Linked DNA regions of Homo sapiens: regions 2 and 3 are each linked to region 1. The links come from fine-mapping of genetic effects on gene expression. A gene starts in region 1. Each other region holds a variant in brackets. All regions are shown on one strand. Distances are from middle to middle.

What was found. PIP is the estimated chance that this variant, and not a neighbour inherited with it, causes the effect.
Region 2: its variant is fine-mapped to the expression of AGTPBP1 in whole blood (INTERVAL, PIP above 0.99).
Region 3: its variant is fine-mapped to the expression of AGTPBP1 in whole blood (TOPMed, PIP above 0.99). The same link has a PIP of 0.9 or more in blood mononuclear cells and monocytes.

The regions. Positions count from the first base shown.
Region 1 is chr9:85,736,869-85,747,304 of GRCh38, forward strand. It overlaps AGTPBP1 (ATP/GTP binding carboxypeptidase 1), which reads right to left and starts at 5,086. Exons shown (of 26, transcript NM_001330701.2): 1 at 4,907-5,086. RefSeq lists an enhancer at 4,100-4,249 and silencers at 4,420-4,739, 4,810-5,409.
Region 2 is chr9:85,758,151-85,768,586 of GRCh38, forward strand. It overlaps a transcript of AGTPBP1 not described here and the pseudogene LOC100419824. Among named protein-coding and RNA genes, the nearest start is that of AGTPBP1, 21 kb to the left of the region's middle. The variant T/C (reference allele first, on the strand shown) is at 6,349.
Region 3 is chr9:85,710,597-85,721,032 of GRCh38, forward strand. AGTPBP1 (ATP/GTP binding carboxypeptidase 1) reads right to left here. Exons shown (of 26, transcript NM_001330701.2): 2 at 1,906-1,970. The coding sequence starts at 1,937. Among named protein-coding and RNA genes, the nearest start is that of AGTPBP1, 26 kb to the right of the region's middle. The variant G/A (reference allele first, on the strand shown) is at 5,140.

The DNA.
Region 1 (10,436 bases):
GGCGGACACAGGCGGATCACAAGGTCAGGAAATCAAGACCATCCTGGCTAACGCGGTGAAACCCCATTTCTACTAAAACTACAAAAAATTAGCCAGGCGTGGTGGTAGGCGCCTGTAGTCCCAGCTACTCGGGAGGCTGAGGCAGGAGAATGGCGTTAAGCCAGTAAGCGGAGCTTGCAGTGAGCAGAGATTGCACCACTGCACTCCAGCCTGGGCGACAGAGCAAGACTCCATCTCAAAAAATAAAAAATAAAAAGACAAGAAAAAGCCAATGTCACTTAAGAATGTCCTTGAAACAGTAAAAATTATTAATTTTTATGCACCTTTTTATGTGACAAAATGGGAACTTTCCATGAACCATTTCTGCTACATACTGAATTACAATAGTTGATGGCTGTCTCAAAGTAAAGTGCTTCTGTAACTGAATTGACAGCTTGAACTAGCCTCTTTTTTAATGAAAGTGACTGAAAGAATGATTGACAGACTATGGTTACTCAAATTGGAATATTTTGGCAGAGGTTTTCTCAGAAATGAATAAACTGAGCTTGTCACTTTAAGTAAACAAGTCACATTTGTTGCCAATGATAAAATTTGAGCTTTCAAGCAAAAATCCGAATTCTGGAAAACTCATATCCACCATTGTCATGTCAAGACCTAAACAGCTTCCCAATAATTTGTCTCTAACAAAATGGGTGGTGATATTAACAACCATAACTTTCTTTAATATTGCATGATGAAAGATGTCAACATTTGGAAGATCTGCATAACACTGAACCAATATTTACAAATGACCAAGGAATGATGTTACAATCTCAGGAATGAGTATAAGACCCATTCAAAGTTCCAACCAATGGGTTTTACTAGAGCATGCAAAAATCCACTTACTGGATTTCTCACGGCATCTAACCTTTAAGAAATTGCCACTTACTGAGTTTTAATATAATACCAAACAAGAATGTCCACAATTATCGGAAAAGGCTATTAAAATGCTCCCTCCCCGGCCTCCCCACCCTGTTTAGCCATTAACTATGTGAGACTGGATTTTCTCCATATGTATTTCAACCCAAACAACATATTGCAATAGACTGGATGCAGGAGCAGATATGATAATCCAGCTGTTTCCATTAAACCAGACAGATTTACAAAAAAAGTAAAACAATGCCACTTTTCTCACTACCTTATTTTTTGTTTTAAAAAAAAGTTGTTTTCATTAAAAATAGGGTGTTTATATTAACATGTAAAGAGTTTATAATTGTCATTTTAAGTGAACTGACAATTTATATTTCCCTTTTCATTTACAATACAGTAAACATAGATAAATTCACAAAAGCTTTTTGGGGATCCTCAACAACTTTTAACAATGTAAAAGGGTCCTAACCAAAAGTTTGAAAGCATTTAGAGTTTTAATATTAGATCCCTGCAAACCAAGAACAAGTATGTAAAATCATACTGGAGGGAAAAAAAAAGTTCCTAGGAAAATTATATGAAAGCTGAAAATGAACACAATGTCAAATCAAAACTGATTTCACACTATATAATATCAATAAAAAAGAAAATGCTTAGATAAAAAAGAATGCTTAAAAAAATTGATTTTGTGTGCCCTGGAAACAACATACAATATTCTGATCAAATAAACAAGTACATACCTACCAATATTTTGACAGATCACATTTTTGATAGCGGCACATTATAGTCAAAGAAACACCCAATCACAAACTCAAAAACAGATGATTAAAAGATTAAAATAGCAGCCATCACCAACAGGAGGGAGACAATCCAAGGTTCTGTCAGAAGGGACAAACGGATTTATCAACAGCTCTCCAGTAGCATCCCAGGGCACCCAGCTCAGGGTCTAGCTGTTCTATTTAAAACTGACTTACATGTTTCCAAGGCAGGAGGCAGGACAGTGAGACTAAGCTCTCATTTAACCCCAAAGGAGCAAATGGGTCATAGTGGAATTAATCTGCACTAATACTGCTCCATCCCCCAAAAGTCCTTTTTCTGCTTACTAGATCCCTTTGAAGACTGAGGAAGAGCAACGGTAATAATAGCAATATTTACTGGGCACTTACTACATGCCAGGCACTGTGGGCTAAGCACTTTACTTGTATTAATCACTTAATATTTGAGAATATCTTAAGAGTATACACTAATATTATGTCATTTTTGGAGCTGAGAAAATTAAAGTACAAAAAGGACAAATAACTTGTCTTAAAAAAATAAAAATAAAAATAACTTGCCTAAAGCAAAGCCAGGACCCAAACCGAGCCATCTGGCTCTGAGGCCCAACTCCTTAGCCACTACACCATAGTACACAGGCACAGTAATCAACAATAACATCTGAAGTTTAAAATTCAGTGCCCACCCTACAAAATTTATGTTGTTTATACTGAAACCCATTGCCTAAGGAAAGCTCCCATCTTGCAGATGGCCCTCTGACAGGTGCATCCATTGCTATTCACGCACTGTTCAACTTTCAGATAGTGGGGGACTTCAAGCAAGAAAAGCAGATTTGGGAAGATGAATACTTTGGATGAGGTTTAAAAAAATTCAGGCCAGGACGGGCGTGGTGGCGGACGCCTGTAATCCCAGGACTTTGGGAGGCCGAGGTGGGCAGACCACCTGAGGTCAGGAGTTCAAGACGAGCTTGGGTAACATGGTGAAACCCCGTCTCTACTAAAAACAAAAACTTAGCCGGGCGTGGTGGTGTGCTCCTGTAATCCCAGCTATTCGGGAGGCTGAGGCAGGAGAATCGCTTGAACCCGGGAGGCAGAGGCTGTAGTGAGCCAAGATCGTGCCACTGCACTCCAGCCTGGGCGACAAGAGCGAAACTCCGTCTCAAAAAAAAAAAAAAAAAAATTCAGGCCAAGCTTGGTGGCTCACGCCTGTAATCCCTGCACCTTAAGAAGCTGAGGCTAGTGGATCACCTGAGGTTGGGAGTTCGATACCAGCCTGGCCAACATGGTGAAACCCGTCTCTACTAAAAACACAAAAATTAGCTAGGCGTGGTGACGCGCGCCTATAATCAAGAAGCTGAGGCGGGAGAATCGCTTGAACCCGGTAGGGGCAGGTTGCAGTGAGCCGAGATCGCACCACTGGCACTCTAGCCTGGGCGAGAGAGTGAGACTCCGTCTCAAAAAAAAAAAAAAAGTAAAATACAAATTACAAAATTTCATAACTGTTGGACCTCTTTTCCTTCTGCTAATGGAAGTAAAACCATTATTATATAGCAGCCTAGCCAGACTTTTCTAAAGAGAAGAATGCCTCAATTCGGAAAAGCTTTATAAAAATTGCTTCTACAAAAGTTTAATTAATAGATTTAAATGCTTTGCAATGTTGGCCAAATACGAGGGTAGTTTTAAGCCTATCCACTTCATTTCCGAGTTCAGAGTGAGTCTGCAGTTGTAATTATGTGATTAATCAATTCAAGGCAGAGTTTTGTGATCATTAAAAATGAACCTGTAACTTCACCATAGAATTTAACTTAAGAGAAGTGGAATGGGAAAAAGAGCAAGTCATATTAGAACTCTGCCTGCATGATGAGAAACAGTGGGTAAGGCACGACTTATTATTTCGCAGTAATTCTACATAGGAAATACAGATCTTTCAGAGTTTTGTTTGGTTTTGACATTTGGCACATGTTTTAAAATAAGCACCATTTAAAGTTCCTTAAATAAATCATTTCTTTTTTGGCCTACTGAACTAAAAACATTCCACAATACAATTACAAAAATAACTTTCCGGTTTTCTCAGACAACCAGTTTATAAGAATAATTCAGAAGTTCACAAAGGATAATTTGATTTACATAAAGCTTAAAAAACGGACATAAAAGGTAAGTGAAAATGACCGATTAAGAAGACTGTTAAGGTCCTTTCTAACTACAAATTGTCATGCATTGTAATTAAACACAACTACAATGTTAAACACCTGAAGGAAAAAACCCACATAGAATTAATACTGCCAAAGAAAATTTCCGCTATCTTCAGGCACTTGAGTAAGCTATGTTAAAACGGGAAATGGGCTTTAAATTATCAACATTCACATCGATTACACTATGATGCATGAAAACTCCATTCTACAATGAGTAAACGCCCAAGAAAGGAACCCAACCAACTCCAATTGCCCTGGTGCTCGTAAGAGGTTTATACCGCACAAGGGGTAAAACAACGGTAGAGTCGAGCAAGCCTTTGGGTTACAACAGTCCTTGAACACTTGCAATTGAGAACCCGCAATTCAGGAAGGAAGACACTAAGGAAACTCTGCACTGTCATCCAGGGTGATCTGATTCAGGTTCAAACCAAACGCTCAAGGCGACAAGTTGTAAACAGAAGACACACTTCAGCTCAAACCACCCAGCGAGAGGAAGCAAACGTGCCCATCGCCGATGTCACAGCAAATCCCACCTTGCTGGCGCTCAGTCGGGAACGCTAGAATTCTCGAAGCACAGGGGCCCGCGATTCAGCGGCCCGCTACCACTGGGGCGGGGGAGAGCGGGGCTGGGCGCGCCCGCCCCCGGCCCTGCAGCCCCTCGGCTGGACTCCCCGCGGCGCCGCGAGCTCGGGCCCGAGAGAAAGGGCTGAGCAGAAAGGGCGGCCTCCGCCCAGAGACCGCGCCCGATACCCTCCGCAAGGTCTGGGACGGGGATCCACCGAGGGTCCGGGGACTGGGGAAGGCGTTTTCCAGACCCAGTCAAAGCCCCACCCCGTCAGGGCTTTCCCTCAAGACCGAGTGCGTTCCCCTCACGCGTCACATGTGTAACATGCGTTACACAACCCGTCAGGTAAGGGGCGCAGGGATCCGGGGTCGCCCCTCCTACCCCCGGGCGCCGTCGCTCGCATCTCCCGCGGCCCGGGGAGAGCAGAGGGACGGCCGGCCGGGACATGAGGACTGCAGCAGGGCGCTCACCGGCTCAGGATGGGGCGCTGGCGGGGACCGCGCAGAGCCGCAGCACCCGGCTCAGCACCTGGATCACGGCGGATCCCTCGCCGCCCGCCGCCCGGTGTTTTCATACAAACCCCGGTGGCAGGCGAGGCGGAGGCGGCGGCGGCGGCAGCTGCGGCGGCGGCGCTGGAGGCGGCGGAACCTGTCCGCATCCCGGGCAACGTCAGCGCGGCGCCCCGCCCACCGCACGCCTTGCCAGCCGGCTCCCAGCACGCGCAGGGAGTGGGGGCGGGGCGTGCGAGGCCGCGAAAGGGGCGGGGCGGAGCGCACGCCCTCTTCCCGCCGCGTCCCTTGTTACCTCCGTGCGCGCTGCGCCCCGCCTCTCTGCGCGCCTGACGGGAGGGAGCGCGCGCGTGGGGGCGGAGCGCGCACGGGAGCGGGAATTAGGGGCGGGTGTTCCGCGCGCTGCCGGTCCCTTGTACCCAGCAGCCCCGGCCACCGCCCCTCCGTACCGAACTGCGAGCGACTCCCCACGTTCTTCAAGTCATCTTTCTGTACACTCCCAACGAGGGCCCCAGCCTTTTCCCGGAACTAAGCCCGCGCCCACCCCCTCCCCCGCCATCAATCAGTCACTTTCTTAGGAAGGGTTCTTAAAGCTCCCCACGTGATCCCGGGGTCGCATCAAACGCTGGGGACTGCGGTAAAGCTTAGACCTTTCCTGACCTCAAGGAGGGTCCATAATAAGAGGCTGGAAGGGACATGCTGTTACTACAATCGGGCTCCCAGAAAACAACAGGATTGCACCTTGTGGCCAAATCTCAGTAAATTAGATGCCTAGTGCTGCAGCGAACAAAATAGCATGCTGATTTACTGTTTTTTGAAAAAGTGCCTGCATATAATCAAAACGGTAATGCTAAGTTGGCTACTGAAGGCAAAGGCGGAATGTTTTATCTGAGCCAAAGTAATGTGTCAGAGAAATTACTAATACACCCCCTTCTGTTTTGACTGTACTTCAGTGTACTGCAATGTATTGCAAATAAATACTGACATCATTTACTTTTTCACGTTGCACAAGAACATGTTTGCTACTGTTTATGGTAAGGAATGTAATATCACAACTAGATAAGGGAATGCATTGAGAACTGTGAGATTTTTGTTTTGTTTTATGATCTTGTTCAAATAAAATTAAGCAGGTGTGAAAGCAATTCAAAAAGTAACCCAAGGTACACCACAGTGCTTCTTACAGTTTGCCCTTGGTAGATGTCTTTATTCAGATGAACAAGAAACTGCCATTTTATAAACATCGTAGTTTCCCTCATCGTGAGCACTAAAAGATAGGTTACGGTATTTAAAATAATTTTGAAACAACCACCACCCCAAACCACCCAATCAGAAACGTATTATCTGAAAATACCCAATAATAATGTAATAATTTTACAATAATGCTAAATATGTATGTAATATACCTGAAACTTTTCTTAAAGAACATGTTTCTAAATGAGTCAACCTGCAATATAGGAAGATATTATGTGGATGTGTGTGTTTGTGGAATTTGAATCCCACTTTCACAAGCACTGTTAGCATAGTTTGATGACCACAACACAGACCCAGGAGATTAACCCACACAAGATAAATAGCAGCATTACATAGCTTTGAAATGATTCCAATCACATAGTTTGCCACAAGAGTGAGTGATTTATGTTTTGCGGTAATTAAGAACTTAGAGCTACTCCCCCACCCCCTGGGAATGTGACATCACTCTTCATCAGATCCCACGTGTATGAAGTTGAAATAAACTTCACCTCTCCTAGCTAATGTGACGTTACACCTTATCAAACACCATATATATGTTACTGACCTCAACTACAGGATTTCGAAATACATATAAACTCAAGAATTTGCAAGATACTTTGAGAGCTCAGCGGGTGGCAGATCGCGTGCTCTGTCAGCCACTTCCCTGAACGCTACCAGCTCAGGCTGCAACAGGGCCACACCCTGTTAGCCTTTAAGCTTTGAAGCCTGTCCACCAACACTGGCACAGCCCTCTAGCATCGTGGGACCTTGCATATCCTCACCGATCTCCTGTATGTTGGACACCATCTCTCCCGAGAACCTCAGCCTCCAAAAGGTAAAGGTACACCTCAGTTGTTTTTCTTTTTCTTTTTCTTTTTCTTTCTTTTTTTTTTTTTTTTGAGACAAGACTCTCACTCTGTTGCCAAGGCTGTAATACAGTAGTGCAATCATGGCTCACTGCAGCCTTGACCTCCCAGGCTTAATGAATCGTACTACCTCAGCCTCCCACTGAGTATCTGGGACTACAGGCACACGTCACCACACCTGGCTAATTTTTTTAATTGTTTTTGTAGAGTCGGGGTCTCCCTAAGTCACCCAGGCTGGTCTCAAACTCCTGGGCTCAGCAGTCCTCCTGCCTTAGCCTCCCAAAATGCTGAGATTACAGGCATTAATACCACACCCACCTCAATCCTTAATCAGACTTTACTTTCCACAGAGGTCTGCTTCAATCTTAATTGAACAACTAGGTTTTAATAGTTTTGGAACTCACTCACTATGTAGTTAATAAACATCATCTATGGAGTGTATTCCCTGTGAAATTATTCTCTTAATTCTCTGCCTCTATACATTGTGAACCTAAGAAAATAAATTATCTTCACATGGCAATAAACCATGTTGATCCAGGATTGTTTCCTCCTTAGCTCAGCTAGATCCAGGTTCTTGTCTCAAGACCAGGAAAAATCAGGTACACGGACACTTGAAGAGTGAGTGAAGTAGAATTTGTTAAGCAAAAGGAAAGCTCTCAGCAAAGAGAAGGATCCTGAAAGCAGGTTCCCAGTTGCCCGCTTCACAGTTGAATGCAGGGGCTTTTACATGCAAGCTGATGGGGCCAGGTTCCCTATTTGTGTAAGGCGCAAATTCCTGGTGGCTCCACCCCATTCCCCCAGTGTGCACGCGGGCCCTTAGTCCACTGTAGGCATGTTTAGGCAAGACCCCTGTGTAAGTTCCCTTATCTGTACGAAACATGGGTGGGAGCTTCTCTGGGGACCCTTTGCTTACTATCTGCCTAAAGCAAGCTGGCTGACGCCTTTCAATGTGATTCATGAAATCATACTTTTATCTCTCTACTTTGAACCATACAAAACACAGAGCTAATTTCTATTGGTCACTCTTTCCACAGCTTCTTCAATAAACCTTATTATGATATATAAAACTAAATGTGAATGGCTGATATAGATCAGAGTTGGACTATATAATGGAATTCATTTAACTTGGATTCCTCTATTCAGTCCAGCCTTGTAGGTACTCAGTAAATGTTTTCCTGTTTCATTTTTGGACTAGTCATGGGGAGAGAGAGGTGAACATTGGAGCCCAGCTATCTCTTTCTCCTCTTCTGCGGATCACCTTATCTCCATGCTTTTAATAAGGTAACGTACAAAATGCAACACACTGTATTACAAAACTCTATAGTCATAAGGCTTAGAACAGCCATGGACCTCTCAAAAAGTCTACAGCAATTTCCATCTAGAACATAAATGTTAGGAGAGCATGATTGATCATGAGGTTTCTGAAACATAGCTGGTCCTCTGGAGTTAGAGGATTGATTGTTATAACTATTCAACAATCAACCATTTATTGAGCACCTCTTATGTACCAGACAGTCCTCTTGAGATCTTCTGAGGAATTAAGCAAATGATAATGCTCAACAAAATACCTAACCACTGCCTTGTGTCAAACTAAAAGGTTTACCACAAATAGACCACAGAACAGAATGTAGTACAAACGACCAGAGCTGAATCTAAATGAATGCGGCAAAACTGGGAAATGGAGGGAAGCAATCTGGGATTTCACACATTGAATGGTTCTGATGCAAAATCTTTTACAGTGGCAAATGGTTTCCATGGTAAACTGTGAATGATATATAATTCGGGGTCAGAAAAATTGAACTTAAAGGCCAGGTGTGGTGGCTCATGCCTGTAATCCCAGCATTTTGGGAGGCCAAAGCAGGAGGATCAATTGGTGATATAGGAGTTAAGAAGAAATCACTTAGGCAGACAGTGAGAGTATGGCAGCCTTTGGTAAGGCTTTTCTCTTTAATGAAAAGCAGCCCCAAATCATTTTCTAACAAAGAGCAGCCTGTAAGCTCGAGCTCCAGACATAGACAAGCAATCTGGGAGCTTGCACTGGTGAATGCCAGCAGAAACTCGGGGCTAGACATGTTCAGGATGGCAGCTCCACTTCCCTTCTCTTTGTCAGCCACGTTTACAGTAAGAAGCAGACAACATGGTGCAGATCAACAGGAAAGCCCATTTGCAGAATAAGATTAGGGTGGGGCGACCAGCCTTCCTTTTCCCCCTGCCCCCACACAGTATATAGACGTCATACCTGATGGAACCAATCTGTGAGCCCCATATAAATCAGACACCGCCTTCTCCAACCTGCTGCCTATAAAATCTGCTGCGATCCACTGCCTCACCCCCTCTGTGGACATCTCTCTTTCCCAAAAAGCTGCCTCTCTCCTTTCTTCTAACTATCAACTTTCCACTACTTAACCCACCCACATGTGTCTGTGTCCTAAATTCTTTCTTGGCACACAAAACAAACCACAGGGTATATACCCCAGACAGCATAGGCATATCATTGGAGCCAGGAGTTCAAGACCAGCCTGGACAACATAGTGAGACCCCCCACATCTCTACAAAAATTAAAATTAAAATTACCTGAGCGTGGTGGTGCATGCCTGTAGTCCTAGCTACTTGGGAGGCTGAGGCAGGAGGATAGCTTGAGCCCAGGAGTTCAAGGCTACAGTAAACCGTAATCACACCACTGCACACCAGACTGGGCAACAGAGCAAGATTCTGCCTCTAACAAAAAGAAAGAGTGGGGGGAGAGAGAGAGAGAAGCAAAATTGAGTAGAGACTTAGTGTACAGCATGATGACTATTGTATACTGGAAATTTGCTAAGAGAGTGGATTTCAGGTACTCTTACCACAAAAAAAAAACCAAAATGCTAACTATGTGAAGAGATAAATATGTTAGCTTGACTATAGTAATCATTTCACTATGTATATCAAAACATCATGTTGTATACCTTACATATGTACAATTTTGTTTTTTTTGAGACAGGGTCTCACTCTGGAAGTGCGGTGGCATGATCATAGCCCACTGCAGCCTCCAATTCCTGGGCTCAAGTGATCCCCCTGCCTTAGCCTCCTAAGCAGCTGGGACGACAGACGCATACCACCACACCTGGCTAATTTTTTTTTTCTACTTTTTATAGACAGTGTCTTGCTATATTTCCCAGGCTGATCTTGAACTCCTGGCTTCAAGTGATCCTCTGGTCTTGGCCTCCCAAAGTATTGGGATTACAGGCCTGAGCCACCATGCTTGGCCCCAATTTTTATTTTTAAAAAATCAACTGGCCACAGATATATGGTTACTAAACTCTCAGTTCTATTCCATAGGTCTATATGTCTATCCTCATGCTAGTATCACACTATTTTGATTATTGTAGGATTATATTAAGTCTTGAAATCAGGAA
Region 2 (10,436 bases), 21 kb after region 1:
ATGATGGACATTTCAGGAATGCCACTATTAAAGACAGAAAACAAAACAAAAGGAAAAAATAAACTCAGAGACATTAGAGATAGAACAAGAAGCTGAAAAAACTTCACAGAAATCTTAATATCCTCAATGTGGTAAAAGATGACTATCTATAAAGAACTACAAGTTATGAAAAACATGAAAGAGCTCTTGGAAATTAAAAGGGTTGGAGGATAGGCAGGGCGCGGTGGCTCACACCTGTAATCCCAGCACTTTGGGAGGCCAAGGCGGGCAGGTCACGGGAGGTCAGGCGTTCGAAACCAGCCTGACCAACATGGTGAAACCCCGTCTCTTCTAAAAATACAAAAATTAGCCAGGCGTGGTTGTGGGCACCTGTAATCCCAGGTACTTGGGAGCTGAGGCAGGAGAATCACTTGAACCTGAGAGGCAGACGTTGCAGTGAGCCGAGACCATGCCATTGCACTCCAGTCTGGGCGACAAGAGCAAAACTCCATCTCAACAAAAAGGGTCAGAGGATAAAGTTGAGGAAATATTCTGAAAAGTAAGTAAAAATACAAGTTAATAGAAAGTAGGAGCGAAACATTTTTAATTGGCAGATAAATTCAGAAAGCCCAAGATCCAAGTAATGGGAATTCCAGAAAGATACAACAGAGAAAACAGAAAAGAGGAGATTATCAAAGACATCATATAAACAATTTTCTCAACACCAGTAATGTGAGACTCTAGGCCTCTCACGTGCAGAGACACACATAGGCTCAAAATAAAGGGATGGAGGAAGATATACCAAGCAAATGGAAAACAAAAAAAGGCAGGGGTTGCAATCCTAGTCTCTGATAAAACAGACTTTAAACTAACAAAGATCAAAAGAGATAAAGAAGGCCATTACATAATGGTAAAGGGATCAATTCAACAAGAAGAGCTAACTATCCTAAATGTATATGCACCCAATACAGGGGCACTCAGATTCATAAAGCAAGTCCTTAGAGACCTACAAAGAGACTTAGACTCCCACACAATAATAATGGGAGACTTTAACACCCCACTGTCAATATTAGACAGATCCATGAGACAGAAATTTAACAAGGATATCCAGAAATTGAACTCAGCTCTGCACCAAGCAGACCTAATAGACATCTACAGAACTTTCCACCCCACATCAACACAATATACATTCTTCTCAGCACCACATCACACTTATTCCAAAATTGACCACATAGTTGGAAGTAAAGCACTCCTCAGCAAATGTAAAAGAACAGAAATTATAACAAACTGTCTCTCAGACCACAGTGCAATCAAACTAGAACTCAGGATTAAGAAACTCACTCAAAACCGCTCAACTACATGGAAACTGAACAACCTGCTCCTGAATGACTACTGGGTACATAACGAAATGAAGGCAGAAATAAAGATGTTCTTTGAAACCAACGAGAACAAAGACACAACATACCAGAATCTCTGGGACACATTTAAAGCAGTGTGTAGAGGGAAATTTACAGCACTAAATGCCCACAAGAGAAAGCAGGAAAGATCTAAAATTAACAGCCTAACATCACAATTAAAAGAACTAGAGAAGCAAGAGCAAACACATTCAAAAGCTAGCAGAAGGCAAGAAATAACTAAGATCAGAGCAGAACTGAAGGAGATAGAGACACAGAAAACCCTTCAAAAAATCAGTGAATCAAGGAGCTGGTTTTTTGAGATCAACAAAACTGACAGACCGCTGGCAAGACTAATAAAGAAGAAAAGAGAGAAGAATCAAATAGATGCAATAAAAAATGATAAAGGGGATATCACCACCGATCCCACAGAAATACAAACTACCATCAGAGAATACTATAAACACCTCTACGCAAATAAACTAGAAAATCTAGAAGAAATGGATAAATTCCTGGACACGTACACCCTCCCAAGACTAAACCAGGAGGAAGTTGAATCTCTGAATAGACCAATGACAGGCTCTGAAATTGAGGCAATAATTAGTAGCTTACCAACCGAAAAAAGTCCAGGATCAGACGGATTCACAGCCGAATTCTACCAGAGGTACAAGGAGGAGCTGGTACCATTCCTTCTGAAACTATTCCAATCAATAGAAAAAGAGGGAATCCTCCCTAACTCATTTTATGAGGCCAGCATCATCCTGATACCAAAGCCTGGCAGAGACACAACAAAAAAAGAGAATTTTAGACCAATATCCTTGATGAACATCGATGCAAAAATCCTCAATAAAATATTGGCAAACCAAATCCAGCAGCACATCAAAAAGCTTATCCACCATGATCATGTGGGCTTCATCCCTGGGATGCAAGGCTGGTTCAACATACGCAAATCAATAAATGTAATCAAGCATATAAACAGAACCAAAGACAAAAACCACATGATTGTCTCAATAGATGCAGAAAAGGCCTTTGACAAAATTCAACAGCCCTTCATGCTAAAAACTCTCAATAAATTAGGTATTGAGGGGACATATCTCAAAATAATAAGAGCTATTTATGACAAACCCACAGCCAATATCGTACTGAATGGGCAAAAACTGGAAGCATTCCCTTTGAAAACTGGCACAAGACAGGGATGCCCTCTCTCACCACTCCTATTCAACATAGTGTTGAAAGTTCTGGCCAGGGCAATCAGGCAGGAGAAAGAAATAAAGGGTATTCAGTTAGGAAAAGAGGAAGTCAAATTGTCTGTTTGCAGATGACATGATTGTATATCTAGAAAACCCCATCGTCTCAGCCCAAAATCTCCTTAAGCTGATAAGCAACTTCAGCAAAGTCTCAGGATACAAAATCAGTGTGCAAAAATCACAAGCATTCTTATACACCAATAACAGACAAACAGAGAGCCAAATCATGAGTGAACTCCCATTCACAATTGCTTCAAAGAGAATAAAATACCATACCTAGGAATCCAACTTAGAAGGGATGTGAAGGACCTCTTCAAGGAGAACTACAGACCACTGCTCAGCAACATAAAAGAGGACAAAAACAAATGGAAGAACATTCCATACTCATGGGTAGGAAGAATCAATATTGTGAAAATGGCCATACTGCCCAAGGTAATTTATAGATTCAATGCCATCCCCATCAAGCTACCAATGACTTTCTTCACAGAATTGGAAAAAACTACTTTAAAGTTCATGTGGAACCAAGAAAGAGCCCACATTGCCAAGACAATCCTAAGCCAAAAGAACAAAGCTGGAGGCATCACGCTACCTGACTTCAAACTATACTACAAGGCTACAGTAACCAAAACAGCATGGTACTGGTACCAAAACAGAGATATAGACCAATGGAACAGAGCAGAGCCCTCAGAAATAATACCACACATCTACAACTCTCTGATCTTTGACAAACCTGACAAAAACGAGAAATGGGGAAAGGATTCTCTATTTAACAAATGGTGCTGGGAAAACTGGCTAGCCATATGTAGAAAGCTGAAACTGGATCCCTTCCTTACATCTTATACAAAAATTAATTCCAGCTGGATTAAAGACTTAAATGTTAGACCTAAAACCATAAAAACCCTAGAAGAAAACCTAGGCAATACCATTCAGAACATAGGCATGGGCAAGGACTTCATGTCTAAAACACCAAAAGCAATGGCAACAAAAGCCAAAATTGACAAATGGGATCTAATTAAACTAAAGAGCTTCTGCACAGCAAAAGAAACTACCGTCAGAGTGAGCAGGCAAACTACAAAATGGGAGAAAATTTTTGCAATCTACTCATCTGACAAAGGGCTAATATCCAGAATCTACAATGAACTCAAACAAATTTACAAGAAAAAAACAACCCCATCAACAAGTGGGTGAAGGATATGAACAGAAGCTTCTCAAAAGAAGACATTTATGCAGCCAACAGACACATGAAAAAATGCTCATCATCACTGGTCGTCAGAGAAATGCAAATCAAAACCACAATGAGATACCATCTCACACCAGTTAGAATGGCGATCATTAAAAAGTCAGGAAACAACAGGTGCTGGAGAGGATGTGGAGAAATAGGAACACTTTTACACTGTTGGTGGGACTGTAAACTAGTTCAACCATTGTGGAAGACAGTGTGGCGATTCCTCAAGGATCTAGAACTAGAAATACCATTTGACCCAGCCATCCCATTACTGGGTATATACCCAAAGGATTATAAATCATGCTGCTATAAAGACACATGCACACATATGTTTATTGCGGCACTATTCACAATAGCAAAGACTTGGAACCAACCCAAATGTCCAACAATGATAGACTGGATTAAGAAAATGTGGTACATATACACCATGGAATACTATGCAGGCATAAAAAATGATGAGTTCATGTCCTTTGTAGGGACATGGATGAAGCTGGAAACCATCATTCTCAGCAAAGTATTGCAAGGACAAAAATCCAAACACTGCATGTTCTCACTCATAGGTGCGAATTGAACAATGCGAACACTTGGACACAGGAAGGGGAACATCACACACTGGGGCCTGTTGTGGGGTGTGGGGAGGGGGCAGCGATAGCATTAGGAGATATACCTAATGTAAATGACGAGTTAATGGGTGCAGCACACCAACATGGCACATGTATACATATGTAACAAACCTGCACATTGTGCACATGTACCCTAGAACTTAAAGTTATATATATATATATAAAACTTTATATATATAAAACTTTATATATATGTAAAACTTTATATATATATAAACTTTATAAAGTTTATGTATATAAAGTTTATACATATATATAGAAAGAAATAGCCCATCAAGGGCCCAGCAAAATGAGTACCCAAAACATATCACTGTGAAGGTTTGGATACACTGACTGAGGAAAAAAGAAGGTCCTGAAAGCATCTAGACAAAAAAGACTACTTGTAAGTTGCAAGAATCAGAATGGCATTGGACTTCTCAGCTTTCCTCATTAGAAGTTTAAGATCTGAAGCAATCTTTAAACTCATGAGGAAAATTAAGTCTAATAAATAATTTTCTTCTTAGCCAAACTCTCAATCAAATGTGAAGCTAGAATAAGCATTTTCAGGCAAAAAAACAAAAAACAAACAAAAAAAAACCCTCACATCAAGCCTGTCCAGAGAAACTACTAGAGAATGTGCCCCACAAAAATAAGGGCACCAACTATGAAAAAGGAAGACTCAGGATTCTGAAAATGTGCTCCAACATGGAAATTCTCAGGAAATACCAAAGGGAAGACCCAGGACAACTGGTCCAGTGTGGAGCAGGAGGATGGATGCTCCAGGCAAAATGTTTCCAGAAAAGAATAGATTGAAAAGATTTCCTGATAAGTTTGATCAAATGAAAAAGTGTTGAGGAATTTTATAGTTCTGTTGGAGAAGAATTAGTATAAGGTGCAAAAAAAAGTTGTATCAAAACAGAAGCATGATCATTTCATACTAGATAGTTCACCTATGAATAACAAAGTTATAATAATGAAAATGAATATTGATTTAACTAAAAACTATAATGTAACTTATATTGGGAGAATGGAGGAGGATGGGAAGTAGAGTAGGTATAAGAGTGCTAAATCCTTATCTCCCATAATACACAGTCAGTAGACAATGTCTAAAATTGATAATGCCATTTAGAAACATGGACATAAACACCAGAAGAACCAACTGAAAAGGTTGAAGGTGGCCGTCTGGGAGTAGGATTCAATTAAAAGCTTGGGGGAGGGGAATGCTTTTTTAAAATTATAAACCTTATGATAGTATGTGTCTCTATAATAAACCTCATGGTAGTATATACAAATAATTACTGTGAAAAGTATTTTACAAATTACCTGAAATTTGACCATAGTGAACATCTCCATAAATCTGGCCATATTTTCTGATCAGAATGAAATACGAGTAAAAACAAATTATATGTTTAAGCCAACCAATCGTATGTTTAAACACACCACATCTCAACCCCTAGTAAATTGTAACATAATTCTACAATGTAGAATGTAAGCCAAGAAAGAAAAGTTCAATTTAGAAAATAAGAAAAAAGAAAAATACTGCCTCTGAAAACCTAGTCAAGGCAATTCTTGGCAGTAAACTCAGAGTTTAAATAGACTTTTTTTTTTTAAAAAGGCATTCAACTTAAGATTTTAGAAAATGAACACCCCGGTCGGGTGGGTGTCTCACGTCTGTAATCTCAGAACTTTGGGGGGCTGAGGCGGGTGGATCACCTGAGGTCAGGAGTTCGAGACCAGCCTGGCCAACATGATAAAACCCCATCTCTAGTAAAAATACAAAAAATTAGCTGCACATGGTGATGAGCGCCTGTAATCCCAGCAACCAGGGAGGCTGAAGCAGGAGAATCGCTTGAACCTGGGAAGCGAAGGTTGCAGTGAGCTGAGGTTGCACCATTGCACTC[T/C]AGCCTGGGGAACAAGAGCAAAACTCCATGTCAAAAACAAAAAAAGAAAATGAATACCCCCTCCCTCAAAAAAATCCATGGGAGAAAACAATAATGTAAAAACTAAAAATATATTCATTTAGCAATTTTCTCTATGTTTTTCCTAATTTTTATGCAGTCTAGATTTCTAGTAACTGTTTTCGGGGTGTCTGGTGGGTTGTATCTTTTAGGCCTTAAACACAGATAGTTTGAAAGTATCAACTCGCCTGAACTTAATGGAACAAGACTTCTCTGAAAAGAATGTGCAGCTCCAGACCAGTACAGCTGAGGAGAAAACAAAGATTTCAGAGCAAGTTGAAGTCCTCCAGAAAGAAAAGGATCAGCTCCAGAAACGAAGACACATTTTTAAGATGAAAAACTTAAAAATGGTAGAGTGTTATCACCTGAAGTAAGTCAGTATTCTTTGGAACTGGAGGTGCTGTATGATGGATCACTTGAGTGATTTCCTCAGTCTTTTTCACATAATCATAAATATTATCTGGTAAACTTGGTTCCTTGAGATTTTGTCAGATGTAGTGAGTTCACCTGGCACTTATTTGGCACCATAAACCACGCTTGACTAGAGACTGAGATATCCTTACATAGTGGTCCATGGACATGGCCTCTTCCTGGCACTGCCAGGCATTTGGAAACTATTAATTTCCTTGAGTATATTTGCCTTCTCAGCTGGGGTTTCTCGTCTGAAATCACAGAACATAGAAAATGATTTGAGGGACTCTACTGGAGGGCACCTGACTTTTCTCTATATATATTTCTTGAAGGATACTAGGTAATTTATTACATACAAGAGATGCCTAAGGAATTAGGGGTTAATTCTTTCCATGAAACCTTGGTTTAAAAGGCCCAATGTCCATACTATGTCCAGCCAAATAGATGCACAAAATTCCAATCCCAGTAAAAGACCTTTTAGTTATAGTTACAGTTTTTTTAAAACTATAGTTTTAGTTACAGTTTTTTTAAAACTATAGTTTTAGTTATAGTTTTTTAAAACTATGTAGAAGATGATTCATTTATGGGCTGTCAAATTGCCCCAGACTTTGTCTTTTTTCAAAATTTTCAGTCAGTTGGCAGTGGTACCTTTACCTTACTTCATCAGAGAAAGATGAATTTTTGAATCTGAACTTCCTCTGCAAATATTTATTGTTGGTGTCTCATCATTACCAAACCAAGGGAAAATTGCTAAGAGAAGGTGAATAGCTGAGAATCATACACAGTGGTGAATCTTGTAGTGTTTTAGTTTGGAGCAAGTGACAGGAAGTTATGAGGGCTAGTTAAGAAATAGGAGCAAGGATAACATTAGATTGTTGCTCATTGAGAATTGATGAAAGGATTGACTTACAAATCAATCCTTGATTGGGGGCTAAATGGCGGTTGAAAGGAACATTATAGCCCTCTGTTGCCGTTTTATAACTTAAGCTGGGTAGCTGTGCAGAGGAACAGAGAGCCAGGGTGTCCTCCCAAGGTGTTAAATTGGAGCCCAAGGGTTATAGATTTGAAGACATGAGAGCCTAAGATACAGCAGAATTCAAATATTTAAGGAATTCTGCCTGCCTGTGACTATTACTAAGCTCTATAGAAGATAGAAGAAGCCAAAAAAAAAAAAACCCAAAGTATTATGTTTCCCTTGAGAAATTAATACTCTATTTGGGAAAACAGATAGAAATATAAGAAAACTGTAAACTCTGAAGGACACTGAAAATCAAGTTGTGGATAACGTATTACAGCTATACCTCTTACATTATTTATTCAAAGCAATGAAGTGATCATTTGGGGGAAGATTCATCAAGGCAGCCTCAGTAGATCAGAATCTTGAGCTAGATTATGAAAAACATGATATGCACTGGCAGATACAAGAAAGAAGTCCGTTTTAGACAGAACATCTTTGAATAAGGCACAGAGATGAGAATTAACAAATTATGTTTGCAGTAGGGTAGAGTTCCATTAATATCAAGAAACATTTAGGTTTCTATTTCATGTGGGATCCCATAACAAAAAACGTTATTTACAGATTTGTGGTGAAAATATAGTATGGTGCATGATACCTATTTTGCGGCTATTCTGGACTGGGGTTTGAGGGAATGATGAGCCTCCTACAACTGGTAGAGTTCTACTTACTCACATGAGCTTCTATGCACCTTTCTTCCACATGGTTGGTTCTTCTTAGTGTACCTCTCAAGTGAGGCTCTGCTCTTATCACGATTTTAAAGCCAAGGTTAATATTCCAAATAGATCTGTCACTAGCAGATGATCGAGAACATGAGATTCTGATGTGACACAAGGTATCAATAAAATCTAGTTGGAATGGTTTGCTATCTTAATGTCTTTAAACTTGTTTAGGATAATTTTCTCTTTCCACAGTAAATTAAAATATTTTTCCTAATTTTATTACTTTAAGGAAATGGATAGAAAGATTTTAGATCGTTACACTAATAGAAGATTACCTAACAATTTACTACAGACAGGTCACACCGCTTTTTTTTTTTTTTTTGGTAAAATCCAGAAACTAAAATTAAAGAATACCTGAACTTTAGATTTCTAATAATACAGAGTAGTTGCTTAATAGGTAGGGAGGAAAATATAAGAACTATTATGTTTCTCTAATCTTTTAAACTTTTAATTTCTCATTTTATGATGAGAACATACTTTTTTTTTTTTTTTTTTTTTTGAGATGGAGTCTCAGTCTGTCACTCAGGCTGGAGTGCAGTGGTGCGATCTCGGCTCACTGCCTCCGTCTCCTGGGTTCAAGCAATTCTCCTGCCTCAGCCTCCTGAGTAGCTGGGATTACAGATGTGCACTACCATGCCCAGCTAATTTTTTTTTTTTTTTTTTGAGACTGAGTCTTGCTCTGTCACCAGGCTGGAGTGCAGTGGCGCGATCTCAGCTCACTACAACCTCCGCCTGCCTGGTTCAAGCGATTTCCCTGCCTCAGCCACTCGAGTAGCTGGCACTGCAGGCACACGCCATCATGCTTGGCTAGTTTTTTGTATTTTAGTAGAGATGGGGTTTCACCATGTTGGCCAAGATGGTCTCGATCTCCTGACCTCGTGATCCACCCACCTCGGCCTCCCAAAGTGCTGGGATTACAGGCGTAAGCCACCGCGCCCAGCCTAATTTTTGTATTTTTAGTAGAGACGAGGTCTCGCCATGTTGGTCAGGCTGGTCTCGAACTCCTGACCTCAAGTGATCCACCCACCTCAGCCTCCCAAAGTGCTGGGTTTACAGGCCTTGAGCCACCGCACCCTGCTGAGAACATATAATTTATAGGGAAATCTCTGCAGTGCTTGCTCAAAAGTTGTTGTTAGTTTTTTGTTTCATTTTACTTGGTCTCTGGACCAGCAGCAACAGCATCACTTGGAGGCTTGTTAGAAATGCAGATCCTCAGGCCCCAAGTGGACCTGCTGGATCAGAATCTGAATTCTAGTGAGCTCCTGGGTACACATTAAAGTTGAAAAGCAGTGCTCTATCATAAAGCAGAGTCAACTCTTGATAACCTGTGGTTTGTATTGTGGCAAATTTTTCATCCCAGGATAGTTACCCATTGCCACGTATCTTGTCAACCTACACCTATTGCTGAGTTAGAGGGAACTGCAAACACTGATATGCTGCAGCCTCACTGGAGCGGGCTGTCCTTGGGTTTCTATATTCACACTACCTTATATTATCTCAGTACTTCCTTAACTTAGATCTAAAACCATAGAAACTGAATTTATACGAAATTGTCCTCAGCCACGTATAAAGGCAAACTCTTCACATTTGTTTTTGATAAAATATAGTCACAGTATAAATTCAAAAGTCAAGTACAGTAAAGTCCTCACTGAACACTGTGGATAGGTTCTTGGAAATTGTGACTTTAAGAGACACCATGTACATCAGGTCCTCAAATTACATTGTTTTCCTTCAACATAGTTGCTTTTGTTACAAAGTTAATAAGAAAAAAAATTTGTTTCGTTATGTATTGTTTCTCTTAAAGTCACAGTTTCCAAGAACCTATTGATGATAAGGACTTACTCTATATTGGATAATTCACTTTTATTTGTGGCTCCTCTTAT
Region 3 (10,436 bases), 26 kb before region 1:
AGCAGTATGACAAGTTTTACTAGAAATTATAATTTCCTTTAGACGAAGACTATTTGCAGTGATTCCAAATTAGTTACCCTACAACAACAACAACAACAACAACAAAAAAAACAAATATCCAATAAAATATACTTCATGAGAAAAAAATTAAAAATGACCTTAGGAGCCAGAGGCTTTCAAACTAAAAGTAATTTCACATTTTTATGAACAATGATCTAGTAATTTTAGATAGTTTAGCTAATCAATAGAAATAGCATTATTTGTTTGACCTGATGCAAAAAGTAAGGCATTTTTTAAAAAGATCCTTTTTAAAATACAAATAATGCCTAATTCCTTTCCTATAGAAATTACACAAGTACGTGACTAAAATCAAATTTGGTATGATGTATTACATGTTAATAACTGCAAAACCTAGCAATTTAAGGAATAAATCTTATCTAAACAGTGTGTATACTATTCATTATATAACAGATTTAACGCATACCAATGAATGTAAAGTTATATACACGTAAACATAAGAACATTGCTACAAAGCAGAAACTTTCATTACCAGTATTAATACACTGTCAATTACCAAGCCAAATACCATTTAATCTTCACAGCCTTATAATAACAGCATTATCATTAAAGTAATTGTTCAGATGAGAAAACTGAGGCTTCACAAAGTTACACAATTTGCTCATCACTGTATAGCCAAGACAATTTCAATATACAATCAGAATTGTCTTTCAACTGAAAGAAATAAAACCAACATTAAGACAATTTCTTGATATTTAAGAACTTTAACAGAGATGATACAGTGTGCTTTAACTCAGCAATCAGTTAAACTTTATCTTTTTTCTTTCTTTTTTTTTTTTTTTTGAGACAGAGTCTCACTGTGTTGCCCAGGCTGGAGTGCAGTGGCGAGATCTGGGCTCACTGCAACCTCTGACTCTCGGGTTCAAGCGATTCTCCAGCCTCAGCCTCCAGAGTAGCTGGGACTACAGGCGCCTACCACCACACCTGGCTAATTTTTGTATTTTTTATAAAGACAGGGTTTCACCATGTTGGCCAGACTGGTCTCGAACTCCTGACCTCAGATGACCCACCCGCCTCGACCTCCCAAAGTGCTGAGATTACAGGCGTAAGCCACTGCGCCCAGCCTAAACTTTTTCTGTAAAGGGCCAAATAGTATATATTTTAGGCATTGTGGGCCATGCAGTCCCTGTCATAACTACTCGAATTCACCATTTTAATAGAAAAGTGGCCACAGACAATATGTAAATGAATTAGCATGGCTGTGTTCCAAAAAAACACTTTATTTATAGATGCTGAAATGCAAATTACATATAATGTTCATGTATCACAAAATACTATTTTTTTAACCATTTAAAAATGTAAAAACCGGCCGGGCATGGAGGTTCACACCTATAATCCCAGCACTTTGGGAGGCCAAGGCGGGTGGATCACCTGAGGTCAGGAGTTCGAGACCAGCCTGGACAACATAGTGAAACCCCGTCTCTACTAAAAGTACAAAAAATCAGCCGGGTGTGGTGGTGGGTGCCTGTAATCCCAGCTACTCCAGAGGCTGAGGCAGGAGAATCACTTGAACCCAGAGGCAGAGGTTGTAGTGAGCCGAGATCGTGCCACTGCACTCTAGCCTGGGCAACGAGAGTGAAATTCCGTCTCAAAAAAAAAAGTAAAAACCATTCTGAGCTCACAGGCCACACAAAAACAGGAGGTGGTCATAGTTTGCTGATTCCAATTTTAACTGAAAAGTTAAACATTAATAAACATTTTTAATTACATAAATATAACATATTATACTTAAACACAAATAATACTTTGTCAAGTATTGAGTTTCAAGTAATTCTGTCATACATTATTTCTGTAACTTATGCATACTGATATTCAGAATTACAGTACCTTTTTTCTGGTATCACTTTTAACTTGCTCATCTTGAGTTACTTCATTTCATAATTGCAGATAATCTAAAAGAAAAATGTTAATGATATTAAAAACTTATAACTCTTTTTTCTATATATTAGATATCACAGAAGCCATACAATGGAAAGTTTTCATTATGGGCAACACAAGATAACACCGGAAACAAAAAGAGAACATTTGAGTTCTATGTGCTTCTACTGGGTCGCTTCAGAATGCAATGTATGACTATAAAAATACCTATAATCAGCCAGGAAACTTATCAAAATCCGGAGCTACAAAAACGCAGAAACCTAACATAATGTCATTTGCAACCTAATGTTAAGATCTTTTGAGACAGTTCAAATTATGCTTTCTGTTCTAATACTCCTCCTTAAAATACATAAACCAATCACAGCATCCTGTGATTAGTGCACTTACTGTACACCATTCACACAGTAGTCAAATACTAGTCAATATGTGTTATTTCCATATAAGAACATTTTCAAATTAGTAAAAGCTTCTATGCACATCTTCCCTCAAACAATAGTTTTCATTTTTAGACATTATATATGTTTAAACAACCTTAAATCTCGATTCACACAATTTTTATAAATCTTCAAGTTTATTTTGCAACTATTAACCCTAAAATACTCTAAATATCTTTTAAATACCAATGCTTACTGTAGCAGAATTTTTTGGCATCACCAAAAAGTAGAATAACTACTGTGAATTCAAAAAGTTAATCATGGCTGGGCATGGTGGCTCATGCCTGTTATCCCAGCACTTTGGGGGGCCAAGGCAGGTGGATCACCTGAGGACAGGAGTTTGACACCAGCCTGGCCAACATGGTGAAACCCCATCTCTACTAAAAATACAAAAATTAGCTGGGTGTGGTGGCAGGTGCCTGTAATCCCAGCTACTCAGGAGGCTGAGACAGGAGAATCACTTGAACCCGGGAGGTGGAGGTTGCAGTGAGCCAAGATCGTACCATTGTACTCCAGCCTAGGCGACAAGAGCGAAACTCCATCTCAAAAAAACAAACAAACAAACAAACAAAAAACCAGTTAATCACATACTTATGAAATATTTAGTAATGTCATATTTAAAGAGACAACAAACACACAAAAAGGGCAAACTTCAAATTGTTTAACTTAATACATTTGGAAGATACTCTGATGAAGTAGAAGATATTCTGGATGTTTGTCTTCAATAACAGAACTTTTCAACACGACATACATAATTTTTTTTCATTTTCCTTAACTAAGAAAAGGAAATATTTAGAATTGTGTACAAAAATTACATGAATTGTTTTTAAAGTCAATGAGAAATTTTAAATTGTAATTTTTTTTACTCTTTTTTAAGACACAACTACAAAATCAAAGTAACTTTTTTCTATTTCTAAATTAAGTAAAAATCACTATATATCCACAGGGAGAAAAAAATCTTACGTGATTTCAAAAGCACTGTTGCTGCCACAAACAGAAGAAACTATTAATACACTAACAGCACATCTCATGAAAAGTTCCCTGTGGATTTTACTAGAGTTGATAGAGTTGAAAAGAATAATGGTGAGCACTAATATCATAGCCAACTGTATTTCAACAGATAAGAAATGATTTGAACTTGCAGTTCACAGTAAAATAAACCACAGGCATTTCTCTCCTCTTACTCTTGGGACTAGATTACAGTAAAAGTAAAGAAATAAAGTTGGTTCCTCTCAAGTCCTCTGGCGTTACCAAAGTGAACAGATCCAGGAGCTGAAGAGGGTCCATAGGTGGGAAGTGAAGTCAGTGCCTCAGTTGCCAGTGTGTGTTTTGTGCCTTATCCTTTAATCACGCAAAAAAGGAGAATACTGCAGTGAATGAAGTGCATTTTAGCACTGCTTTTTCTACTGTAATTGGTGTTTGAATGAGGATAACAATGGAAGAGATGAAGAATGAAGCTGAGGCCATTTCCACGTTTTATATGCCCTTCTATGCAGTCATGTATCCTGTGTGTAATGAGCTAGAAGGAGTAAATCTGCCTGCAGCTCTAGAATGAGTAAATCTGTCTGCAGCTAGACACCAAGACCATTTTCATTATGGTTGAAAAAGACAATTGTAAAATGTAGCTTCATCATAATCTCACACTGAAGATTTTTTGCATCATTTTTGCTATTATCATTCTAAGAATTACAAATCAAAAGAATCTACACCTTAATGTGTCATTATATAGCATTCCTTAAAATAATTATAGATATTGGTATTGTTTCTGGCATTTTAACTTGAAAGTGATATGCTGCAAGATAACATATTTAAGAATATTTGATGGCAAAAATTCAATATATGGTATATATCTGTTAAACATCTCTTGAAAAAATGAATATATATGTGTGTATATATGATCAGAATATCAAGACAACGTGGTGTAATGCCTAAAAAACTTCTAACAGGAGCTTATAATAGCAGCTTATCAAAAATAAAGGGCCGGGCACAGTAGCTCACACCTGTAATCCCAGCACTTCGGGAGGCCAAGGCGGGCGGATGACCCGAGGTTGGGAGTTCAGGACCAGCCTAGTAAACATGGTGAAACTCCATCTCTATCAAAAATACAAAAATTAGCCTGGCCTGGTGGTGCAAGCCTGTAATCCCAGCTACTCAGGAGGCTGAGGCAGGAGAATCACTTGAACTGGGAGGCGGAGGTTGCTGTGAGCTGAGATCGCACCACTGCACTCCAGCCCGGGTGACAGAGCGAGACTCTGTCTCAAAAAAAAAAAGAAAAAAAGAAATAAAGCAAACAAGAATTCTGAAGAAGGGAGGGAGGAAAGAAGGAAGGTTGGTTATGTTTAAACCTAGTGACAAAAAGGAAAACTAAGAGGGAAGAAGGAACAGGTATTATGCTAAGAAGAACTCAGGAAACTAGGAACCTAGCACTCAGAAACAAGGACGACAGAGGAAGACTACAAAACAGGGCTAACTAAAACTTTGGAACTGCAAATAGTAACTTCTTACCTCCTCCATATCTCCATGCCCTACCACTGTGGAACATGCTCAGCAGTATCAAGCATCTAACCCCTGGCAAATAATCTTCACTAAAGGAACAGACAACCTCAAAGAATTCTGCTTTCTAGGCTTAAGAGTCCCCCAGGAAAAAGGTCAGTTCTCAACCCTGTTATCCTAAAGTAGGCCAGTGTATCCCTTACAGTTCACTTTTTATTACTGAAGCCTGAAGCCAGAACATAATGAAAAATCTTGC[G/A]AAAGCTTGTGTTGATTACAATATGGTGTAACAGAAAGTGCAGGCACCTAGAAGCAGAAGTGTTGCATTTCACCAAGTTTGTGGCTTTGCCAAGCAAGTGTGATAAAGCAAGAGGGCAGAGGAACTGAGAATGTATGAAAAAAAGTGATAAAAACTGAGCTCGAAATTTAGGTATAATCTCCTCTTTCCTCTTTACTGAATCATTTTCATCACCATAAAATCATGATATTTCTGTGTCTTAGGAAAAAAACTTTCTCGCTCCCAATTCAGCTACTGTCCCATTTCTCTCCTTCTGAAAGCAAAGACTTGTTTATGCACACTGTCAACAAGTCCTCCCTTCCAATCCTCTCTTAAACACATTCCAATGAGACTTTCCCCACCCCACTCCACCAACACCATTCTTATCAACAACTAATGATCCCCATGTTACTAAATCCAATTGTCAATTCTCAGTCCTCATCTTATTTGTCCTATCAGCAGCATTTGATACAGCTGACCACATCCTCTTCTTGGAAATGCTTTCTTCATTTGGCTATATACTTTGCTTTCTCCCAACCTCACTGACCACTTCTAAGTTTCCTTTAACGGAATGCCCAGGGCTTAGTCCTTTCTTGTCCTCTTCTAACTACAGTCTCTTCCTTGGTGATCTCATCTAGTCTTGTAATTACTCAACATTTCCACTTGAATCTCTAATAATATTACCAACTCGACATATGCAAAACGGATCTGACCTTCCCTTCCAAGTGTGCTCTACTCTGGCTTTCCCATCTAAGTTAAAGACAATTCTATGCCTCCAGTTGCTCAATTCAAAACCTTAGCTTCATCCTTGTCTCCTGTCCCACATCCAATACATCAGAAAGTCTTGATAATTCTACTTTTAAAATATATCCAGAATCTGATCACTTTACCACATCTACCACGGTCAAGTAAACAATGTCACTAGTCTCCCTTCTACCTCTGATGCCCCCTACAGTCTATTCTCAACACAACATGCTTAGTGATCCTTTTAATACACTGGGGGACAGAAGAAGGAAAAAACACCTTAAGTAGATTTTTGTCACTACTCTGCTCAAAGCCCTGTGCGGCTGCCAATTTCAATGACATAAAAGACCCTAGAGGAATACCCCCAGTCCTTACCTCCCTGTCTTCATATCCTACCTACAACTTTTCTCAGTCACTCTGCTCTGGATGCACTGGCTGGGCCTCCATGTTTTCCTCCAACATGCCAGGCTCTCACTTTAGTGCCTTTGCATAAGCTGTTTCTTTTGCCTGGAATGTGCTTCTGCCAGATATCCCAATAACTAACTCCACCACTTCCATTGCTCAAGTATCACCTTTTCAATACAACCCATCCCAACCAACCTATTTAATATTGCAAACTACCTCCAGACCCTAGCATACCCATTGCCCTTGCCGGAATCTACTTTGTCTTCTTCCAAAGCACTTACTGCCTTCTAAAACATGATGATTCAAAAATAACTGAACAGGCTGGGTGCAGTGACTCACGCCTGCAATCCCAACACTTTGGGAGGCCCAGGTGGGAGGACTGCTTGAGCCCAGGAGTTCAAGACCAGCCTGGGCAATATAGCAAGAGCCCTTCTCTAAAAAATAAAAAAATTAACTAGGTATGGTGGCATACACCCGTAGTCCCAGCTACTCAGGAAACTGAGGTGTGACAACCACTTGAGCACGGGAGGTTAATGCTGCAGTGAGCTGTGTTCACACCACTGCGCTTCAGCCTGGGTGACAGAGCAAGACGCTGTCTCAAAAAATAAATAAAATAAAAATAACTGAACATTTTTGCTATGGTCTGAATGTTCGTGTGCCTCCCAAAATCCTTATGTTGAAAAGCTAACCCCCAAGTGACAATATGAGAAGTTAGGGCCTTTTGGAGATAATTAGGTCATAAGGGTGGAGGCTTCATGAATGGGATGAGTATCCTTTTTTTTTTTTTTTTAATATACTTTAAGTTCTAGGGTACATGTGCACAACGTGCAGGTTTGTTCCATAGGTATACATTGCCATGTTGGTTTGCCACACCCATCAACTCGTCATTTACATTAGGTATTTCTCCTAATGCTATCCCTCCCACAGCCCCCCACCCCCTAACAGGCCGTGGAGTGTGATGTTCCCCGCCCTGTGTCCATGTGTTCTCATTGTTCAACTCCCACTTATGAATGAGAACATGCAGTGTTTGGTTTTCTGTCCTTGTGATAGTTTGCTGAGAATGATGGTTTCCAGCTTCATCCACGTCCCTGCAAAGGACATGAACTCATCATTTTTTATGGCTGCATAGTATTCCATGGTGTACCTGTGCCACATTTTCTTAATCCAGTCTATCACTGATAGACATATGGGTTGGTTCCAAGTCTTTGCTATTGTGAATGGTGCCATAATAAACATACGTATGCATGTGTCTTTATAGCAGCATGATTTATACTCTGAGTATATACCCAGTAATGGGATCACTGGGTTCTAGTTCTAGTTCTAGATCCTTGAGGAATTGCCACACTGTCTTCCACAATGGTTGAACTAATTTACACTCCCACCAACAGTGTAAGTGTTCCTATTTCTCCACATCCTCTCCAGTATCTGTTGTTTCCTGACTTTTTAATGATCGCTATTCTAACTGGTATGAGATGGTATCTCATTGTGGTTTTGATTTGCATTTCTCTGATGACCAGTGATAACGAGCATTTTTTCATGTGTCTGTTGACTGGATAAATGTCTTCTTTTGAGAAGTATATGTTCATATCCTTTGCCCACTTTTTGATGGGGTTGTTTGGTTTTTTCTGGTAAATATGTTTAAGTTCTTTGTAGATTCTGAATATTAGCCCTTTGTCAGATAGGTAGATTGCAAAAATTTTCTCCCATTCTGTAGGTTGCCTGTTCACTCTGATTACAGTTTCTTTTGCTGTGCAGATGCTCTTTAGTTTAATTAGATCCCATTTGTCAATTTTGGCTTTTGTTGCCATTGCTTTTGGTGTTTTAGTCATGAAATGTTTGCCCATGCCTATGTCCTCAATGGTATTGACTAGGTTTTCTTCTAGGTTTTTATGGTTTTAGGTCTTACACTTAAGTCTTTAAACCATCGTGAGTTAATTTTTGTATAAGGGGTAAGGAAGGGATCCAGTTTCAGCTTTCTACATATGGCTCGCCAGTTTTCCCAACACCATTTATTAAATAGGGAATCCTTTCCCCATTGCTTGTTTTTGTCAGGTTTGTCAAAGATCAGATGGTTGCAGATGTATGGTGTTATATCTGAGGCCTCTGTTCTGTTCCATTGGTCTATATCCCTGTTTTGGTACCAGTACCATGCTGTTTTAGTTACTGTAGCCTTGCAGTATAGTTTGAAGTCAGGTAGTGTGATGCCTCCAGCTTTGTTCTTTTGGCTTAGGATTGTCTTGGCTATGCGGGCTTTTTGGTTCCATATGAACTTTAGAGTAGTTTTTTCCAATTCTGTGAAGAAAGTCATCGGTAGCTTGATGGGGATGGCACTGAATCTATAAATTACCTTGGGCAGTATGGCCATTTTCACAATATTGATTCTTCCTATCCATAAGCATGGAATGTTCTTCCATTTGTTTTTGTCCTCTTTTATGTTGTTGAGCAGTGGTTTGTAGTTCTCCTTGAAGAGGTCCTTCACAACCCTTGTATGTTGGATTCCTAGGTATTTTATTCTCTTTGAAGCAATTGTGAATGGGAGGTCACTCATGATTTGGCTCTGTCTGTAATTGGTGTATAGGAATGCTTGTGATTTTTGCACACTGATTTTGTATCCTGAGACTTTGCTGAAGTTGCTTATCAGCTTAAAGAGATTAGGGGCTCAGACAATGGGGTTTTCTAAATATACAATCATGTCATCTGCAAACAGGGGCAATTTGACTTCCTCTTTTCCTAACTGAATACCCACTATTTCTTTCTCTTGCCTGATTGCCCTGGCCAGAACTTTCAACACTATGTTGAATAGGAGTGGTGAGAGAGGGCATCCTTGTCTTGTGCCAGTTTTCAAAGGGAATGCTTCCAGTTTTTGCCCATCCAGTATGATATTGGCTGTGGGTCTGTCATAAATAGCTCTTATTATTTTGAGATACATTCCATCAATACCTAGTTTATTGACAGTTTGTAACATGAAAGGCTGTTGAATTTTGTCAAAGGCCTTTTCTACATCTATTGAGATAATCATGTGGTTTTTGTCATTGGTTCTGTTTATGTGATGGATTATGTTTATTGATTTGCGTATGTTGAACCAGCCTTGCATCCCAGGGATGAAGCCAACTTGATTGTGGTGGATAAGCTTTTTCTTGTGCTGCTGGATTCAGTTTGCCAGTATTTTATTGAGGATTTTTGCATCGATGTTCATCAGGGATATTGGTCTAAAATTCTCTTTTATTGTTGTGTCTCTGCCAGCCTTTAGTATCAGGATGACGCTGGCCTCATAAAATGAGTTAGGGAGGATTCCCTCTTTTTCTATTGATTGGAACAGTTTCAGAAGGAATGGTACCAGCTCCTCTTTGTACCTCTGGTAGAATTTGGCTGTGAATCCGTCTGGTCCCGGATTTTTTTTAGTTGGTAGGCCATTAATTGTTGCCTCAATTTCAGAACCTGTTATTGGTCTATTCAGAGATTCAACTTCTTCCTGGTTTAGTCTTGGGAGGGTGTATGTGTCCAGGAATTTATCCATTTCTTCTAGATTTTCTAGTTTATTTGCATAGAACTATTTATAGTATTCTCTGATGGTAGCTTGTATTTCTGTGGTATCAGTGGTGATATCCCCTTTATCATTTGTTATTGCATCTATTTGATTCTTCTCTCATTTCTTCCTTATTAGTCTTGCTAGTGGTCTATTTTGTTGATTTTTTTCAAAAAACCAGCTCCTGGATTCATTGATTTTTTTAAGGGATTTTTTGTGTCTCTCTCTCTCTCCTTCAGTTCTGCTCTAATCTTAGTTATTTCTTGCCTTCTGCTAGCTTTTCAATTTGTTTGCTGTTGCTTCTCTAGTCCTTTTAATTGTGATGTTAGGGCGTCGATTTTAGATCTTTCCTGCTTTCTCTTGTGGGCATTTAGTGTTGTAAATTTTTCTCTACACACTGCTTTAAATGTGTCCCAGAGATTCTGGTACGTTGTGTCTTTGTTCTCATTGGTTTCAAAGAACGTCTTTATCTCTCTGCCTTCATTCCGTTATGTACCCAGTAGTCATTCAGGAGCAGGTTGTTCAGTTTCCATGTAGTTGTGCAGTTTTGAGTGAGTTTCTTAATCCTGAGTTCTAGTTTGATTGCACTGTGGTCTGAGAGATA